2 separate regions of the Homo sapiens genome follow, and region 2 is linked to region 1. Evidence: fine-mapped expression QTL. A gene starts in region 1. The other region holds a variant in brackets. All regions are shown on one strand. Distances are from middle to middle.

The links.
Region 2: its variant is fine-mapped to the expression of FBXO48 in transverse colon (GTEx, PIP above 0.99).

The regions. Positions count from the first base shown.
Region 1 is chr2:68,464,126-68,474,479 of GRCh38, forward strand. It overlaps FBXO48 (F-box protein 48), which reads right to left and starts at 3,169. Exons shown (of 4, transcript NM_001024680.3): 1 at 3,086-3,169; 2 at 2,019-2,345; 3 at 715-1,053; 4 at 1-245. The coding sequence starts at 1,020. The coding sequence ends at 84. APLF (aprataxin and PNKP like factor) reads left to right here and starts at 3,460. Exons shown (of 10, transcript NM_173545.3): 1 at 3,460-3,702. The coding sequence starts at 3,607. RefSeq lists enhancers at 2,250-2,309, 2,403-3,298, 3,299-4,193 and a silencer at 3,535-3,744.
Region 2 is chr2:68,069,649-68,080,377 of GRCh38, forward strand. No RefSeq gene overlaps it. Among named protein-coding and RNA genes, the nearest start is that of C1D, 12 kb to the left of the region's middle. The variant C/T (reference allele first, on the strand shown) is at 4,775.

The sequences.
Region 1 (10,354 bases):
GAATAAAGATATCGCTTTTGCAACCTAAGAGTCATTTAAGTTTTAAACTTTCAAAGACCTGAGATTTGTGATTTTTTTTCCCCTTATCTTTCCAGTTCTGCTTCTAGAATTTCCCCCCATGTATCTGCATCCATTGGGTACATGATTTTTTCTGGTAGGCTAATGGGAGAACAAATGTTGCTGTATCTGCCACTTAGCCATTCGTGTTTCACTTTACTCTTCTGGTAATTCCTCAGCAGTATCACCTGAAAGAGGTAAATCACCGTTAAAAAAGACTGTAGTAGGTGGTTGGTTAGTGAATGTGTTTAAAGCAAGAGAAGCAGATTGACAGGGCTGAAAAAAAGAGTATTTACATTTATATATACGTACATTAATAAATGTATGTGTCTGTGTACGTGTGTGTATGTATATGTGTATTTATACTGAGTGGCATAAGGTGAAGTGGAAAGAAGGAGCTAATTCCCTTCTGGTTAACGCAGGAAAATTCCCGAATTTAGAATTTTAAAAATGCAAAAGGATAAATGAAAGATAGTGTGGAAACAGTGTGGTTAGCAGGAAAAGACTAATAACTTTAACTCATTTCCAAGAGTCAACACACTGTCTGTGTTATTCTGCATATGTAATTCTGACTCCTCCAAGCAGAAGTTAGAATTGGCGCAAACCTGCTATCATAACGCTGTCAACAACACTGCAGATCGCAAAGATTAAACTTACCCTCCAGGAATAACCACTTTCTAGATCATCATCTATTTCTCTTCGGCACACAGCTCTTACAGTCATGCAGTGAGGTTTCCATAAAGAGTCACTGTTTCTTATTGTGTCATTCCAGCTCCTGCATGTCAATGAAGCCCTGCACAGACTCCGAATGTCCAGCTGACTGAAAATTTTAAAAGTGATTTCTGCAGGCAGCAGTTCAAAAAAGTTGTTTTGACTCTCATTTTTTTCCTTCTCAGCATCCACAGAGTTCGCTTCTGTGTGAGAAACTCTTAAATTATTGTTTCTCTTGGAGTTTTTATGCATAGCTTAATGTTTTAAGTTATCCTCATATGTAACCTAAAAGGCAAAATTTAAACATGCTCAGTCTCCAAATAGGAGTATAAATCCTACTTTAAGTCAGATGCTTTTTGGGTATAATTTAAGAACTCTTTCTTGACTTTAGCTTCTCAATCTGTAAAATGGGCCAATGCTGCCGCTCTCCTGAAAGTTCTTGCAAGGATTAACAGTGATAGTGGGTAAAATATCTAGTCTTGCTACATCTGAATTGCACATGGGAGGCACCCAACATGTTAGTTTCACTCTCACCCAGGCTGGAGTGCAGATGTGTCATAATAGCTCACTGCAGCCTCAAACTCCAGCCTCAAGCGATTCTCTTGACTCAGCGTACCCCGCCCCTCTTTAAAAAAAAAAAAAAGAAAAAAAAAAAAACAGAAAACCAAAAACTGTTTTACGGAGAAATGGTTCTTGCTATGTTGTCCAGGCTGGTCTTGAACTCTTGTCCTCAAGCAATCCTTCTGCCTCAGCCTCCCAGAGTGCTGGGATGACAGGTATGAGCCACCATACCCGGTACTTTTGTACCTTTGAAAATGTATATGAGTCAATCCTATTAAACTCCTGAATACTTGTTGTACATGGGAACTGATGCCTCATCATTAATTTGCAATTTGTGACTTAATCATAAACTTGCTGGACTTCTAGTTGTTTATATAAGAATTTTATCTACTTGTATCTTATAGGTAGGTAGGTGCTTACATTTGACACAACTACTATCTGAAATGGACAAGAAGATGAGATCTGGATTATGAAACAAAGTCTCAAATATTCAACTCAGTCATAAGAGTAGTGTTTTAGAAATGGCCCCTTGAAGCTATCCTACATGCATAATTACAAGCTAAGGATAATAGTCACTGAAGACATCAAGCAACAGTGAGTGACAACTGTAAACAATGTTTAGAACTCAGCTAGGTACAGTATGTGACTCTTTGAAGCCCAGATTTAAAGCTCAGTTTCAGCTAATTTACCTAAGGTGAATGGTGTAGGCTTCCCAAATCAGTTGAAAGCATGACTGGGTACATCACCATCCTTGAGTTACTTTTGTATATAAAGACAGCTTGTATTCACTTAAAATCAGTTTATTCCATTTTGCACTTCCTTTTATAACGGGGGTTGGTTGTGCAAGAGGAGAGGTTTGAGGTAAATACTTCTTTTAACTCAGCTGAACACAAATCTCTTTTCTAGACGAGCTACTCAGCTATGTTTTCGGACTTGCCAAGACCACGGTGGCTCCCATTCATGATCCAGATTAGCTGTGGTGGCTGGAACTGCAGTCTGTGTTCAACAGAGGTCTTCTTCTTGAGGGTTAGGAGAAGTAAGAAAGCAAACGTAAAAACGGGTGAGTCAAGAGCAAGTTTTTGCCATGCACCTTGGCCCCTCCCACCACCAATACAAACCAAAGCCAAACCACAACGTTCTTGAAAAGAATCTCACATTAGGAAAACGTTACAGTGCATTTAAACGTTACAGTGTGTTTATCCACTTCTCCCAGGATCTTACTGGGAGAATAAAATGCGTCCCCTTGTGGAATTCCTGTAACGGGAATGAAGGCTTTTGAATTTCACAGCAGGGGATACCTTTGCGAGTTTCTAAAATCCCACTAGGAATCTTTCTTCTACGTCCAGGTTCGCCTGGATGCCTGGAAACGACCCCTCTTCTGCCCTTTCTCCTTTATGAACTGAGCTTTCCTGAATTCTCTCTCAAGTGAAGTAAAAGCTCGTCCCCCTTTCAACTATCATTCGGAGGGATAGATCGGCGGCAGCGCAGTCGGAGGGGCGGGGAGCCCCACTCCGTCCAAATCCCGCGGGTCAGGGCTAATCACCCCACGTCCCGTCTGAGCCACCCTCCTTGTGTCCCGCGCGGGTTGCAGCTGCTGGAACCCAAGAACACAGGGCACTGACAAGTGACAACAACCGTCAGCGTTGACTGTCACTGCGGCTCCAGGCCGCGGAGGGAAGGCTGAGCTTGCGTCCAGGCCGCGTCCCCGGGAGCGTAGACACCTAAGCCAACGGGAACGGAAGACCCTTCTACCTACTAGGCCGCGGTAGCTTCTCCTCCCGCGATTTAAATCCACCGGAATTCGAATCCTTCCCCATAGCTCTTCGCATCCCGCCCACCTGAGTCCCGCCCTGCTCAGAACTCGCGCAGGCGCCGAGAGGGGCGCGCAGTGCCTTTGGGGATTGGTAGTTTTTTCCAGGGCGTCTCCGCTCGGGAAAGGAAGTGAAGAAAGCCACCAGGACTACAAGGCCCGGCGTCCTCCAAGATGGGAGGGAGGTGAAAAGGGTGTTGGGGAATAAGCCGGGGTTTTTAAACAGTAGTTTTGAGGCGGCGAGACTGGGGAATCCCCGGTTGCGTCATTAGTAGGCGTGGAGGGGCGGGACTCGTGAAGCTGCGCTGGGGCCGGGCTCTGAGAGGACCGGCGCAGCCGCGGGGAGCCTTTGAGGCCCTCCCTCGGTGTTTTTTCCCAGGGCGTGGGCTTGCCCCGCGCGTGTCTGTGGAGGGCGGAAACAGCGGAGGGGCCAGTCTCCTGGCGAAGGGGCCTAATCCTTGCCCGCCATGTCCGGGGGCTTCGAGCTGCAGCCGCGGGACGGCGGTCCCCGGGTGGCCCTGGCGCCCGGGGAGACGGTGATCGGCCGCGGGCCGCTGCTGGGAGTAAGTGTGGGCGGGGGCTTAGCGGACCCCGAGAGCCGTGGAGTTCCGCGCCGGCTCCTGAAGACCGGCCCTAGTCCTGGCCGGTTTCCCCACCGCACTGGTCCGCCGGTCCGGATTTTAGAAGTTTGGGGCCGCACGTTTTTCAGTTACCTTTAAGCCAATTCACAAACATTTCTTTATGTTGCTTTTAAAACACTGACTGTATTACCATTATTATCTTATCCAGGGATTGGCAAACTAGTGCCTGGGGGCCAAATCCAGCCTATGTTTGTATGGCCCCATGAACTAAGAATGATTCTTAAATTCTGAAATGTAAAATGTAAACAAAAAATCTACTAATTTTTCAGGGGGAATAGTTGCTCCAAGGGTTGAGGGTATTGCGGCTTGTCTTGTAAAGCCTAAAATATTTACAGTAGTGTCTGGTCCTTTACAGAAAAGTTTGCCAAACTGTGATATTACGTCTTCTAGGCTAATTTCTTTTAACCTTTGGTCTCCTTTGCAGAGCTGTGTGGACCTTATTTATTTATATTATTTATTATTTCCAGTAAAATGAGTAGCTAACCCTTCATAAGTAATGTGTATAGCGTTCGTGTCATTGGTCTAAGGAGACATTACCTATACCAACATCTTTAACTGTCTCAAGACCGTATCAGTTAGCTATTTTTATTATCCTCATTGTTCAGATGAGAAAATTGAGCCATACATACATTATTTAAAGTCCATACATAAGCTTTTGGACACATAATGCCACAAAGCTAAATATTCTCTACCTTCTTTGGGAGAGGTTTAGGAATAAGAACATTTGCATATTGCATTCTGGAATTCTATAGATCTCTTAAGTACATCTAGTTTTCTATTTTGTTCTTTAACATTCAACATTTCTTGTTTGGTGCTCACTGTGTAGAACATTTTGCAGATTCTAGCACTGTGGGGCATACAAAGATGAATGGAACATGGGTCCCTACCCTTTAGGAGTTTTCTCTTGGGACCGGGGAGACACCTGTGTCAGTGAGCTAACACCAAGGAGTAAGGAGTGTGTACTGTTGTCCTGGTTAACTTCCAGAGTCTAAATGGAACCATTGGTACTTGCCTTAGGTCCCTTCTGGGAGCAGGGAAAGGAGTGGTAGTTTAAGATTGTATTATGGAAGCTGGTCCTAAAGGGGTGTGTGTGTGTGTGTGTGTGTGTGTGTGTGTTGTGTGTTGTGTGTTGTGTACATGCACATGTGCATGTGGTAAGGTTATTGAGGAAGTAGATATTCAATTGCTGTTCATTTTTTTACTGGACAAGTGATTATTTAAATATTTAACATCATTTCTATTTTTTTCATCGTTTGTTGGCCTATACAAACACTGGAAGGAACTGTCTGGAGGCTTTATTTTTCTTTTAAATTCGTAGGTTTGAAACTTAAGAGTATGTGCTTAATCTAGTAATCATATGTCTGGTGACTAACGAGTTTTGACTTGCTTAAGAAATTGTCACCAGTAGAGTACTGTGGGTCTGGTTAAAAGGTGGATGAATTTTAGGGCCGTGGTTTAGAAACATGGCAACAGATTGCAGACCGTTTCATTATTTGTAGCTTGTTCTTTGTGTTGTCGACTTGCTAATGTGAGATGAGCCTATTTGGTATCTGTTTTTAAAAATGGTAAGGAGTGAAAGCTGGGCAATTACCTGGTCAAGATTTTGCTTTTCCTTTTGAAATAACATTCAGGGATGAGATTCTTTTGCCAAGGTTGGCGTGTATCAGAAGTGGTTATGAATGACATCCTAAGTGTGTTAAAGGAAAAATTTGGAGAACAAACAAATCGCCTTGTAGTTTTTTCGATTTTGGAGCTGACAGATGCACTCGATTCTTCTCTGCACTGGTTAAAACACAACATAAGGGCTCCTGTTTCCAACAACAGCAATTCCAGTGAGATTTATTTTTGTATTGTGAGAGAGCGAAGACTGAGTTCTAAGTGGAAAACTCAGTAAGTTCATTGTAAATTGGAATCGGAAACGATTAATATAAATAAGGATGATTTTGAACTTTCTTAATTGGGCATGTTTTTCTGAGACAAGCTTCACAAACCTTGATGGCCACACAAACATAAAAGTTTATAATCTGACTGTGTAAAATAGTCTTGGTAGTAAAACAGTTTGACAATGAGAATGGTTTTGTATTTTTATGGTGGTAGGAAAACACAACAGAGAAACCTGTCACAGAGAACAAAGGACAATGAAATTTAATCTTTCTTGTTCCCTTTGCTTTCATGTGAGTCATCAGAGAACCCCAGGTCTTTGTTTACTAGATTTTGATTCTGCTCCATGATTGGCATCAGTTAGAAGGTTTTACAGCAGGATTAATCTTCAGAGAACTTGAGTTAAAACAGCCAATCCAAAAGATTACATATTGTGTGATTCCATTTATATAACATCATTGAAATTGCGAAATTGCAAAATTTCAAAAATGGAGAACAGATTAGTGGTTGCCAAAGGTTAAAAAATTAGGCAGCAGGGCAGAAGGGAATGGATATGGCTATAAAATAGCAACATGAGGGATATTTGTGGTGATAGAAATGTGCTTTGTCTGGACTGTGTCAGTATCAATATCTTAGGTTGATATATTGTACTATAGTTTTGTAAGACGTTACCATTAGGGGAAACTGGATAAATGGTACAAGAGATATTTCTATATTATATCTTTCAACTACATGTGAATCTACCATTATCTTAAGAAATTTAATTTAAAAGGGTTTTACAGTACGACATGTCAAGCACTGTTAGGCCAAAGTATTTGCTTTATGGGTTTTAATTAAAGCTGTTACACTCTTAAATGAAATCTACTATTTCTGATTTCAGATTTTTCTTATTTTGTTTTGACAGCAGGGATTATATGACACATTTCTTTATGATCTATTTTCCTCCTAGGAAACAAGATAGCAAAAGATATCTAGTGATACTTTCTCAATGTAGATGTAATTAAATTGACTGCTTTGATTAAAAGGAGAAGAGTCCTCAGTTGGGGGAACAGGGAAGGTCATAGGCTTCAGTATAGACTCTTCAGGTGGCATCAGTTCACCACTTCTAAGAATGTTGTAAATGTTCTACAAAGTTTACACAAAGTAACCATCCCCTGACCTGGCAGCTCTATACTTTTAACTGCTTGTTGCAGAATCCTGGCTGTCCTGGAATGCTGTTCCTACCTGCTCCAACATAGGTTTCTTCCCTTACGTTTCTTTTATTTCTAGATTTGCCCTTCCCTCATTTTATTATTTAGCCTACAACCAGTGCCTAGCACACAGTAGGCCTTTAACACGTGATTTCTTCCTTCCATTTCGGCATCTCAGCCTCTCATTCACTCTACCCTCAAAAAGAGCCTAATTGTGACTTAGATATGAAAAAGGGTTATCATTGAGTTTTGAAGTGAATTTAAATATAGTAAAGATGCAGTCCTACCAACTGCTAAATCTTGAGTAGCATTCATAATGAATTAAGTTTTAACATTTTTCCTGTTTTGTTGATTGATAATTCGCTAAATTCAGGAAATAGCTGATAAATATATACTATGGTTGGATGGGAGGGAGTATAGGAGAAATAAAGGTGAATGAGAAACAAGTCTTTGCTCTCAAGAAACTTATAGTTTTGTAGGGTTAAGAGACAAATAAACAAGTATTAGTAACTAAATAAGGCTACAACCTCACATGGGGACTGGCGCCAGGCTGACACTTGGAGTAAGCGAAGTGGGAGGGAAGAAGAAAAACAACACAGGGACAGTGATAAATGACAACAGTTCTGCCTCAGTGTTGGGAAGGCCACAAGGAGAGGGTCTCTATGCAATCCCTGCTACTTTCCCCTATTCCCAGTTGGTAACAGTGTCATATTGTTTTTTTAAGAATAGTAAGAAATTTGAATTTTTAGATATAATCACTGATTTTTAAAAGGTCACATTTTTATTAAAAGTTTTGGTTAAATACCATGAGTCTGTTGATGAAGAGTTAAATTCTATAAAATATTTCAAGAGATTTATTCTGAGCCAAATATGAGTGACCATGGCCCGTGACACAGCCCTCAGGAGGTCCTGAGAGCATGTTCCCAAGATGGTCAGGGTACAGCTTGGTTTTTATATATTTTAGGGAGGCATGAGACATCAATCAAATACATTTAAGAAATACATTGGTTTGGTTCAGAAAGGCAGGACAACCCAAAGCAGGGGCTTCCAGGCTATAGGTAAATTTAAACATTTTCTGGTTGACAATTAGTTGAGTTTATCTCAAGACCTAAGATCAAAGGAAATGTTCAGGTTAAGATAAAGGATTGTGGAGACGAAGTTTTATTTTGCAGAGCTCTCAGATAGCGGACTTCAGAGATAGCAGGTTGTAAAATGTTTCTTATGAGACCTGAAAGAGTGCCTGGCTCTTAATTGATTATCTCCTGGATCTGGAAAGGAAGGAAGGAAAACAAAGGGGAAAGGGAATTCTCTATAGAATGTGGGTTTTTCCCACAAGAGACTTTGCAGGACAGTTCCAAGGTATGGCAAAGAAATATATTTTAGGGTAAAACATTTTGATTTTCTTCCTTGTTATGCCTGAGTCAGACTGGAAAGTAAGTCACGTTATACAGGGTTAAATAAAACTCATCTGATGAGAATTTATGGTTTGTAGGGCATGACTCCCCAGACCCCTTAGAAAGGAATTTGGGCAAGATAAAAAAAAATAATAATCAGAGCTTAGTCCTCAAGCTAGACAGAATGATGTCACAGGGTACAGAGAGGTATAAGAAGGAACCTGAAGTTAAGAGGTGGGATCAGGGAAAGAAAGCTTCATGAACTTGGTAGCATGTTGAGTTTGACTGTGGTGTGTTGGGACAGTTAGAATTTTGGTAGGTGGAGTGGGTGGTGTAAGGAAGGGCTTGCGTGGTTTAAGGCTCTAAGATATGGTGTGTTGGATAATTGGGTAGGTGTTGACCAGGCTTGTGGGATGATCACATTATGTCAATGATCCCGTTTAACTTTTACAAACATTGTTTTTTAATATATTAGTTTTTAAAATAGACTTTATTTTATGGAGGAGTTTTAGGTTCACAGCAAAACTGAGTGGAAAGTACAGAGAGTTCCCATATACTCTCTGCCCTCTTACATGTACAGCTTCCCCGACTATCAACATTCTACACAGTATGGTATGTTTGTTGGAATTGATGAATCCACATTGACATGTCATTATCACCCAAAGTTCATGGTTTACACTGGGGTTAACTCTTGGTATTGTACATCTTATGGGTTTTGACAAATGTATAATGACATTTATCTACCATTGCAGTATAACACAGAGTTGTTCCACTGCCCTAAAATTTTCTGTGCTCTGCCTATTCATCCCCCAGAGGCTCCCCAGGACCCCTGGCAACTACTGAATTCTTTTACTTTCTCCATGGTTTTGCCTTTTTCAGAATGTCATAGAGTTGGAGTCATACAGTACATAACCTTTTCAGGTTTCACTTAGTAATATGTATTTAAGGTTCCTCCAAGTCTTTTCATGGCTTGATAGCTCATTTCTTTTTAGTGATGAATAATATTCCATTGTCGGTTTATCCATTCACCTACTAAAGGTCATCTTGGTTGCTTTCAAGTTTTAGTGATCATGGATAATACAACTACAAACATTTGGGTGCAGATTTTTGTGTGAACGTAGGTCTTCAACTCATTTAGGTAGATACTAAGGAGCACAGTTGCTGGATTGGATAGTAAAGTTGTATAGTAATAGTATGTTTAGTGTTGTAAGAAACCGCCAAACTGTCTTCCAGAGTGGCTGTACTATTTGCATTCCCACCAGCAATGAGTGACAGTTCTTGTCACTGGACATCCTTATCAACATTTGGTGTTATCAGTGTTTTAAATTTTGATCATTCTAATAGATGTGAGGTAAATCACTTTTCATATGTATATTTTGAGTGGACAAAAATACAGCAGTCAACACAGAAGACTCCTGTGATTGAATATGTGGTTATTTCTCCCTACCAACAAGCAAGCGGTCACTTTTACAGCAGACATCAACTGGGTGTCCTCTAATTCAATTTAATTCTGACACCATCTATCTGGAGATAGCATCAGCTCCCACATGTTGAGGGCTCAGTTCCCAAGATTTCCCCCCACTTCTGATGGCAATTGCAAGCCCCAAGTTGTTTTACCTGTGCTTCTGAACCACTGGATGTAAACCAGGGATCCCATGGCCCTTTCCTTGGGCTCTATTAATTTGCTAGAGCAGCTCCTAGAACTGGTTTGTTATAAGGGATATGACAAAGGATACAGATGAGGAGATGCATAGGGTAAGCTATGGGAAGGGATACTGAGCTTCCATGCTCTCACCAAGTGTGCCACCCTCCAGAAACCTCTACATGTTCACCTGTTTGGAAGCTTTCCTAACCCTGTCCCCTTTGGGTTTTTATGGAGTCATCGTTATTTAGTCATGATTGATTAAACCATTGGGCATTAGTGATCAGCTAACCTTTAGCCCCTCTCGTCTCCCTAGAGGAGGCTGGGGCTTGGGGCTGAAAGTCCCAATTCTCTATACCTTGGTCTTTCCAGTGACTAGCTCCCACCCTGAAGCTATCTAGGGGCTGCTAGATGTCACTTAACTCATTAGCATACAAAAAGACATCACTTGGGAGATTCTGAGGATT
Region 2 (10,729 bases), 390 kb before region 1:
ACCGCATGTTCTCACTCATAGGTGGGAATTGAGCAATGAGAACACTTGGACACAAGGTAGGGAACATCACACACCGGGGCCTGTCTTGGGGCGGGGGGAGGGGGAGGGAAAGCATTAGGAGATATACCTAATGTAAATGATGAGTTAACGAATGCGGCACACCAACATGGCACAAGTATACCTATGTAACAAACCTGCAATGTTGTGCACATGTACCCTAGAACTTAAAGTATAATAATAAAAAAAAATAAAAAATAAAAATAAAGAAAGAAAGAAAAAATGTGGTCATATCTGTAGATCTTCTGATTGGCCTTAGAGAAATATATATTAAAAACAAAAATTAAAAATATGCCCAAGATTTAAACTCAGAGTTATTAATTGTGGTTTTATTGATTAGGAAGAAAAATAGAGTGTTAAATGCAGTTTAATGATCTATAGAGTGGATGCCTTAATAAGCTATGGTTTCATTGATGAGAATCTATGCAGCCATTCATAATTATTAAAAGAAAATAGAACAACATAAAAGAAAAATCCTATAGTATGTTGTTAAAGAAAAAGCAAGTTATAAAGTACAATGATTTCATTTTGTTTTTTTAAGCATAAATATATCAATGTAAAAAGTATTTATATTTAATCCTTATCAAATGCTAGTTAAATTCCTGGTACTCTAATGAATGACAAAACTATAATTATATCAAGTGTTCACAGAAAATAAGGATTTACTGGAAAATAAAAAAAATGTACTACACTTGGAAAAAAAAAGGAAGGCAAAGAGCTTTAAATTGCTAATTTGTTGGGGAAAATAATTAAGTTTTCACATTCATGTCACCATAAAAGAGAAAATATATTTCATGATTATGTTGAATAATACCTTTCAATTGTATGGTAACTAAACTATTTATTATATATTAAAATCAACACTGTTATTTGGGCTATTTACTTTTCAATTCTTAAAATCAGATAATAAAATGAAATATAAACTTCACAATAAAATTTCTAAAAGGCAAAAAAAAAAAATAAAGTTTTTAAGTGGCAAATGGGCTCGTTCCTGATTACTGTATAGTTGGATTAAAGACAGCGCTTCTTGTAGAGCTTGCAGAGGATAGCATATATTTTAAATGTCTCCTCTATTTTAACACTGTAGTCGGCACCAGTCTCCCATCACTACATTGATAGGAATAACAGGGAACATTTTAAAGCTGTTTTAGCAAGCCAAGGATGTTCATTTTTAACTAAAATGAAACAAATCATGTCATATTTTCAGAATTCATATTTAGTCCTTCATCAGTTGCTATTTCCAACAATTTATCCTTTAAAGTTGTCATTACGTTTAAATTGTATTTTGATAAAATAAATCAATTCCAGATTTTATACATTGTTAGGATATGATTACTAAACTAAGCTGAAAATATCACAAATTTTAATGTAGTCCTACTGCACATGACTGGTACACAGTTCATACAACATGGGACTCACCATATGAGTTCAGCAACATCCAAACTAATTTTTGTCGTATTCAAGATAACCGGTTCACTGATCACCATTGTTTCAGCAATGTACAATCGCTATAAAATTCTCTAAGTGATTCTTCTCAATTTCTGCACTCATCTTGTGGAGAGGTAATAACAAATAGCTCACGGACTCACACTTATCCATAGACCATACTTTGAGTAGTGCTGTTGTCCTAAGGAGTTAGGTACAAACTTCACCACAAAGACTAAAGACCTGGGAAGACTTAAATATCACTCAGAATAACTCAGAACCTGACAGTTTGTCCTAATAATGAGGCTTTAATGCAAACTGTCACAACTTGTGTCATTTGAGTCCTTCAGGAACCAAACACTGAAATGGTGTTAGGAGTACAAAAGGTTGGGGGCAGGGGGCACTGCTCTGAAAAATAAAATGTTACTTCTCTGATCCTCAGTTTCCTCTTCTGGAAAATAGAAACAATAATGGTATCTATTTCTTAGGTACTATGAGGACCAAATGAGACAATGTGTTTCAATGTTAATCCTAGTGCAAGGCACAGAGTAAACACTTAATAAATGTTAATAAACATTATTAGTAACAGTAGTAGTAGTACTATGTTATCACTATAAAGGAAGAAATTAGAAACTTCTGATGTTGAATTTAGGAAGTTTGTTAAATCTTAGTGTTCAAATTATGAGTAACAAAATTGGCTCCCAAACAATATCAGAATAAAATATTAGAATTCTTTTTATTTTCTGAGTGATAGCATAAGAAAATCACCATCTTACAGATGTCATAACAATAATTGACTTAGGTGAGACTCATTAATAGATTCTGAAATTATTGTGTGAAAGTTTGATGGGGAACAGGATATTTATACCACCTTAAATCATCACAGATTATTTTTGAATTAACTTTATAGTAGATAAATCTGCTAGACATAGAACCAAGTTAACATAGACAGAGAACCAAGTTCTAACTTAGACATAGAACCAACTAGACATAGAACCAAGTTCTGTGTTAACATCACTCATAATGGGGCAAATTGATGTCATGTGCCTCCTTTTGTGATATGCCAGGAAAGACTATAACATTGCTTATGTATTATTCCTGCCAAAAAGGTATTACCTGAATCTGATCCTCAGGAAATATCAAACACACTCAAATTAAGGAATAATATTTTGTTGTTTTTTTTTAAGAGATGAATCTCACTGTGTCATCCAGGCTGGAGGGCAGTGGCGTGATCATAGCTCATTACAGCCTCCAACTCCTTGACTAAAGTGCTCCTTCAGTTTCAGCCTCCTGAGGAGCTGGGACCACAGGGGTGTGCCGCCATGCCCAGGTTTTTTGTTGGTTTTTTTTATTTGTTTTTTGTTTGTTTGTTTTTGGAGGGCCGGAGTCTCACTATGTTGCCCAGGCTACTTTTGAACTCCTGGTACTATGAGTGATCCTCCTGCCTCAGCCTCTCAAAGTGCTGGAATTGCAGGCATGTGCCATCATGGCCAGCTGAATATTCTTTAAACAACAACAACAAAAAACTGGAATGTATTTCAGAATGTTAATGTCATGAAAGAAAAAGAAAAGGCTGAAGAACTAGATTTAAAAAGTAAGAGACATGACAGCTAAAGACAATGCGTGATCCTGGATTGGTTCCCAAATCAATAAAAAAACAACGTTATAAAGAATATTATTGGAGCAATTGAAGAACATTGTAGATAGATTGCATATTGAATAATAGTTTCAAATCAGTATTTTCTGAATTTCATCATTGTACTGTGGTTATGTTATAGCATAGTCTTGCTCCTAGGAGATACAAACTGAAGTATTTAGATTGGTGATAGAGAGGTATTGTCTACAATTTACTCCCAAATAGTTCAGGAAAATTTTTAATAGTAGTATTAATGATAGTAATAATATGTGGAGAGAGATACCAAATGTGGCAAAATGTTTGGTTCATAATTGGCAAATCCAGGTGAAGAGTATATCAGAGTTCATTATATTACTTTGCCATTAAAGTTACCAAAATCGCAATTACTTTTGTGCCAACCTATTATTCTTGCAACTTGTCTATAAATTTGAAATACAAAATAAAAGAAAAAAGCATGAGGAGTCAGGAGATGAGAGGCAGAGCGAGCCTCGGCTGACAGGCAGTTGTTTAGCTTTATGGATAGTTTGCGTACAAGAATTCTTCTGGTCTTGTTTTTTTGACCTTGAGGACCTGGGGTGAAAAAAGTGCCACAGGTTACAGCCTGTGTATTCATAATATTACTTTGCAGAATGTTTTCCATGGTCACTGTCCATAATCCTCCCCAATTTTAAAAAGAAAAGCACAGGCCATACTAATGTTAAGAATTCTAATATCAAGCTTTGTTCCTATATAACATGAATTCAAAGATAACTCTGAATTGGTCCACTTGGCCCTGTTGGAAGCATGTACTCATTAATTAATGTCACTTATTAATTGTTGAGCCAAATGTGGCTGAATCACTCTCCCCCACCCTTCTCTGGTTGGGTATTAAGAGCAAATAGGCAAGTGAAAGCTGGTTTAACACTTAGCCTCACCTCACCCCCTTCCATCTTCTATCCTTGCAGGAGAGCAGGCTTTTCTCACACAGTCAGGAGCTGAGGGATGGAAATCCCTGTATGAAGGCTTAGCCCCACTGAGTGTCATGACCTGCTTATTCAGAAGACAATTGTCAATCCACTCTATCTGATTTAACTTTTCCTCTAAGAATTAGCAAAGTTCCAGAGAACAACAGTTTAGCAGCAAATAAGTTCAACGGAAGTGATTAAAGTTCCATGACATCCTTAGGAAGATAGCCCAATAATGAGAATTGTCTATCTTGAAACCAAGAATGAGAGGAGCAATTGATGCTGTTACCATCACTTTGGTTTGTCTAAATAATCTCAATAAGGAGAATGAATGGGTGATATGGTTTGGCTATGTCCCCACCCAAATCTCATCTTGAACTGTAGCTCCCACAATTCCCGCGTGTTGTGGAAGGTAATTGAATCATGGGATGGGTCTTTCCCATGCTGTTCTCATGATAGTGAATAAGTTTCATGAGATCTGATGGTTTTATAAGGTTGAGTTTCCCTGCACAAGCTCTCTCTTTGCCTATGGCCATCCATGTAAGACGTGCCTTTTGCCATCTGCCATGATTGTGGGGCCTCCCTAGCCACGTGGAACTGTGAGTCGATGAAACCTCTTTTTCTTTATAAATCACCCACTCTCAGGTATGTCTTTATCATACCTGAAAACAGAACACGCAACATGAAAACAGACTAATACAATGGGCTTCTT[C/T]CTCTTTTTGCTGCTTTTTGTTTGTTTGTTTGTTAGTCTGGGTGTTCATGACTATTTGATTCATTTGAAACATGCAGGTGGAGTAGGAAAATTTAAGATAGGTTGTCAGCTCAAAAGTTATTCTAAAAACTCTGCAAAGTTGTATTTGTTCACTCATCTTCACCTGTCTGTGCTTTATTTTCCCAAATGGTTTACATCAAAAAGTGGACTAAAGACAAGATTTCAAAACCTTTCTAGAATTAGCCATTTCAAAAGATAATTGTGAAGAGGCAATGCTTATTTAAGAAATTGGTTTGCCATACTCCTTTAAAAACCCCTTGAAGCCTTGCCACACAATAACATCCCTTAAAAAAATCAATGTTTATAGGCATAATGAAAATAAATATATTTATTTATTACTCCAAGTAAACTCTTCCTGTAAACTACATGTGCTGTAATTCCAAAACTGCCTCCTACCATTCCCACATCAAGACTAACCTGAAGTCCTGGCATGGTGTTTCACACTTATAATTCCAGCACTTTGGGAGGCCAAGGCAGGCAGATCACCTGAGCTCAGGATGTCAAGACCAGCCTGAGCAACATGGCAAAACCCCATCTCTACAAAAAATAGAAAAATTAGCAGGGCATGGTGGCACACACCTGTAGTCCCAGCTACTTGGGCGGGGTATGGGGAAGTGCCTGAAGCAGAAGGATCTCTTGAGCCTGGGAGGTCAAAGCTGCAGTGAACCGTGTTCATGCCACTGCATTCCAAGCCCTGGGCGACAAAGTGAGACCCTGTCTCAAAAAACAAAAACAAACAAACAAAAAAAACACCCGAGTTTTCTGGACTGACTTTTAAGAGTATTCAGGGAAAGAGCTTTGATCCAGTTGATCCAGGGTCCAGAGACTGGATCTTACCAAAAATGTGGGGGTGTGTGGTTCAATGAAGTGCACTGAACCTATATCAATCTATAAAATGGTTGATTTCTGACCTACTAATTATAAGGAAAAGTGAGACTTTTGTTTCTTGTTAGTGAAGAGAGCACCTGGTGGCCATCAAGCTGACCATGCAAAGACTGTGACCTTATCTGAGGAATTTAGAAGTAATTAGACTTCCCCATTATCCAAAGCAGGCATCTGGTTCCAGGCTTCTTTCCCAAAAATTTGTAAGTAATGAGAATTTCTATACATCTCCAGAATGCATGCATGTAGAAACTCATTGTACAACCCTTGCTGACATTAAGGCACCAAAATATCTACAAATGTAATCATTTATCATGACCTACATGGCTTACGTGGTCCAGACTACCCTTATGCTCCCGCTTTAAGGTCCATAGGTACCCCTAAAGAAAAATCCACCATGGCACTCTCAGTCCTCTCTTGCTGAGACAGCCTGCTCCACCCTTCTGCAGCATCCTTTCTATTTAATAAAACTCCTTTTCAAACCTATACTGTTGTCGATAAATCCTTTTACCAACCCATGAGTCAACCACTTTCTGATGCCAGGCCTCTGACACCTCGCCTAGCAGTTGGGAGAACTGTTGGAGGAAAAAAGAAAAGGAATGTGGGAGTACACTGAAAAGTATAAAAATGTAAGGTGTTTTAACACTCTCAGTTGATCCTTAGCTACTGCATGTTGCTAAAGATCATATGGACAATAACTCTTACTTTTAAACTATTCAACTTGGAAATGTTCCGGAAGTTCTCGGCATATTTGAATTTAATTTTCAAATGCTTGAATCTTGTAAATTATTATTATTATTTAGCAGAGTCTTGCACTGTCGCCCATGCTGGAGTGCAATGGTGCAATCTCGGCTCCCTGCAGCCTCTGTCTCCTGGGTTCAGGCGATTCTCCCTCAGCCTCCCAAGTAGTTGGGATTACAGGTATGTGCCACCATACCCAGCTAATTCTTGTATTTTTAGTAGAGATAGGGTTTCACCATGTTGGCCAGGCTGGTCTCGAACTGTTGACCTCAAGTGATTCACCCACCTTGGCCTCTCAGAGTGCTGTGAGTGCAGATATGAGCCAAATATGTACTATTTCTAAAATATGAATGGAAAACTATTTTTCAGAGCTACTTAGACAGAAAGTGTACCTAGATTGCCAACTAGCATCTCCTTTTTATCAGGTTTCTGTTCTTCTCTATGCATCTCATATGTTGTAGCTCTAGAAAAATATAAATATTGTTTTGTGTGTGTGTGTGAACAATGACCCCAGAAAGAAATCTAGCTGCTGGTGCAAGTAGTAAAAGTGAAGAGATCAAATGGAAAATGTAATTAAAGGATAAATCTTAGTATGAAAATATGATTTGTAGATAAATCAGAAAATGTAATGTAGAATTCCATATTAGCTAAATCTAAGACATAAATGAGTTCACATATACAGAAGAATTATCTACTGATGATTCTAGCTAGTGCCAAAATTGTTTATCACATGAATAATTTCACAAAAAAAGTTTGTACAAGTCTGAATTGCTGTTGAATCCTTTCTAAAACATCGTGTGTTTCCTATGCAAAGTTTCACACCACATATTAACCTTTTTTTTTAAACTCCCACCAGTGTAGGAGTTATAAAACAATTAAAAGGCTGAAGTCAGGGTGGAGGGATTACAGTTCTCAGTAATGTTTTTCCTAAATTTTATGCCAATAATTAGGTGCTATATCTTATAAATTTAAGGATTTGAAAATGTTTTTATATGATTTCTTATAAGGCCAGGCTCTACTGAATTTTCAGCATTGTAGGTAAGCTAGGCCACTGTTATGAAAAAATCAAATAGTTTAAACAAACAGCTCATTGACTGATGAGCTTTCAGCCCTCTCTTTGACTATGTCTTTTGCCATATGACTTCGTTGTTCCTCCCATCAGCAGGAAGAGTATATTTTCCCACCCCTTGATTCCAAGTTTGATCACTTCACTTGTTTTGGCCAGTGGGGTAATAGTAGATGTGATACAAGAAGAGGCTTAAAAATGTGGACTTGCCGTGTTGTGCTTCTGCCATCCCAGTAAGAAGGATAAGCCCAGCTAGCACAGTGTCCCAGCAGGAGGATGAGGGACCCATGGAACAAACCTGAGTTGTCCAGCCAAGATGACCCTCAACTCACAGCTGACTCATGGCCCATTCCCTAGGTACATGAGTGAACCCAGCCAAGATCAGCAGGTAGTACAACTTAGCCGAACCCTTCAGGCTCCAGAGAAATAAACATATATTGCTGTATTCACCTGCTCAGGCTGCCATAACAGAATACCACAGGCTGGGTGGTTTAAACGACAGAAATTTGTTTTCTCACAGTTCTGTAGGATAGAAGTTCAAGATCTAGTTGCCGTCATGTTGGTTTCTGATGAGGCCTCTCTTCCTGGCTTGCAGATGGCCACCTTCCCACCATGTCCTCCTCACATGGCCTCTCCTCTGCACATGCACAGAGTAAGTGAGATCTCAGTGTTTCTCTTCCTCTTCTCATAAGGATACCAGTCCTACTGGATGAGGGCCCCAGTTTTACATGCCATATAACCTCAATTACTTCCTAAAGGCCCTATCTCCAAATGCAGTCACATTGAGGGTTAGGGCCTCAACATAGGAATTTTGGGGGCATTCAATTGAATCCGTAACAATTGTATGACACACAACAATTTGATGGTACTAACTGCCACATTCAGTAAAAATATATAACGGAGAAGTGAGTTTGGCTTCTTGGAAAATGTTAATTCTCTAAGACATAATGAGAATATTTTATCAAAGTAAAAAATTTAGATTTGCTTTACTTCCAATATATAAGCTACCTATCCACTGGAGCATGGTCTAAAAGTGACATTGTTGAAGTACAAGGAATTATTTCTACAGGATAAGTTTGTTTTCGTTTTTTGGGTGTATGTAAGTCCTACTGGGGAATTTATCTTTAAATAATATTATAGATCCTGTATAAAGTGAATTTTTTAAATTCTGAAAATGACTGCATTTAGAAGACACAAACATTTACAAAGAAAAAATATCTTACTCAAAGAACAATATAATATTAATCTTGGTCCAAAAGAACATAAGAATATAATCTTATTAAAATGTCAAAAGAGCCTTCTGCTTATTAGTGGAAAAATCCTATCAGTACTTACAATCTTTAAGGACATGCTGTTTTTAGTGAAGTCAAGAGCAAGTCTTTCTTTCACTTTTTAATACATTAAAAGTCACAGGCTTTTTATAAATTTAACTCTCAAGCTTACTAGCAGTCATTTGCAGCTCATTTCTGTTAGATTCAATTTATCTTTTAATTAGGAAACCAGAGCCATTTCTGAATACTCCTGAAATTAATGAAAGACTCTTTTTTTTCTATAATGCTGCATACCTGTTTGAAGGTATACATTTGTGCAACAAGAGAGTAATGAACATCTGATAATGCAGTACTATCGGGGTATTCATCTGAGGCTTCTATAATGCATCAAAACTATTTTGCTTTATTAAATTATTTTGTATATCTCAAAGACTGCATATTACAGAGTTCCACTGACTATGCAGAAATCAAACTCACTTATTCTTTTCATCCATAGATCCTCATAACATGTTGTTTTAAATATTTTAATAAAGCACTTCTAACAATTTTTGTAGTTGTCCAAGGTGAGTGAGTATGATGGAAGTCAATTAAAGTTTTTTTTTTTACAAATGGGAAGCAAAATTTCATAGTAGCTTGTATAAGAAATGATTTGATTTGTACTCCAATTTGAAAATTGAAATTTAAGATATTACTAAAAATTTATCATTTAACAAAATTCTGGTTATAACTGCAACTCTTTAATTATTAAAATAAATAAAGACTGAATCAAATGTTGATTGGGATTTTTGTTATATAAAATTTTTATGACAAAATTGTTAGGTGCTAAATGCAATGCTGTAGCCTGGATTTGATCCTAGAAGAGAAAAAGGACATTCGTGGAGAAAAATCAGTGAAATCTGAATACAATCGGGGGTGTAGTTAATAGTAATATACCAATGTCAGTTTCTTAGTTTTGACAAATATACCATGGTAATTTAAGATGTTAACATTGGAGAAAACTAGATAAGGGATAGGCAGGAACTCTGTATTATCTTTGCACTATAAATCTAAAATTATTCTAAAATAAAATTTATTAAAAATTATTAGATGACCTGATATGATATTCTTCATTCAGTTTAGCAGCACAGTCATAAAGAGATTCATCTCTGCAGAAATATGTGAAGGCTGTACCAATTTTCCCAAGAGCCTCTCTTAATCCCCTGAAACACAAATCTTCCTTTCTTGAAAGCACACAATCCTTGTCATAATCCTCGTAGATTTTCTCTTCTTTAACAGTAACTGCTCTTGAGTCTGCCATATCCTCACTGTCTATGACTTTCCATTTTGTCCATCACTTTGCTCAATTAAATGAAGTCTAACATCCTTTGCAATATTTATGATTGCACTTCGTAGTCAATATGTGCTCCCCACCCCTTCTCATAGCACTTGAAAGGAAAATGCCTGTTAAAAGATGATAGACTCTAGAGTGAAGATGGGAGAGAAGTTGGAGGGCAGGCTAATTTTCTAAGTAGTCAGTTTTTTTTTTTTTAACAAAATGGCCTACATAACCTTATAACTATAGGAACACCGGTAATATTTGGAAGGCAAAGAACCTTATGTTTCTACTTTTCCTGTAATATAAATATATAAAGAATTGAAGAAATAAAGCAGCTAATGAGAATTGGCAGCCAATTAAAAAAGAAAAAAGACTCAAGAAAGATGCAAACAAGAGGCACAAACTATGTACAGAGATTTTCTTCCTTCTGTGGAGCACTGTGTCATAAGAAAGACTCCCAGAAACAGATGACAAAAATGGCCAACTTTCAATCTTCCCATAGTTATGTTTCCATAGAAGGCAGGGATGTACATAAACCTACACTCAGGCCTAAGGGAAGTTCAACACAGGCCCTTACCCAGTTATAATGTGATCATTCTGATACCTTTATGTTTGTTTTT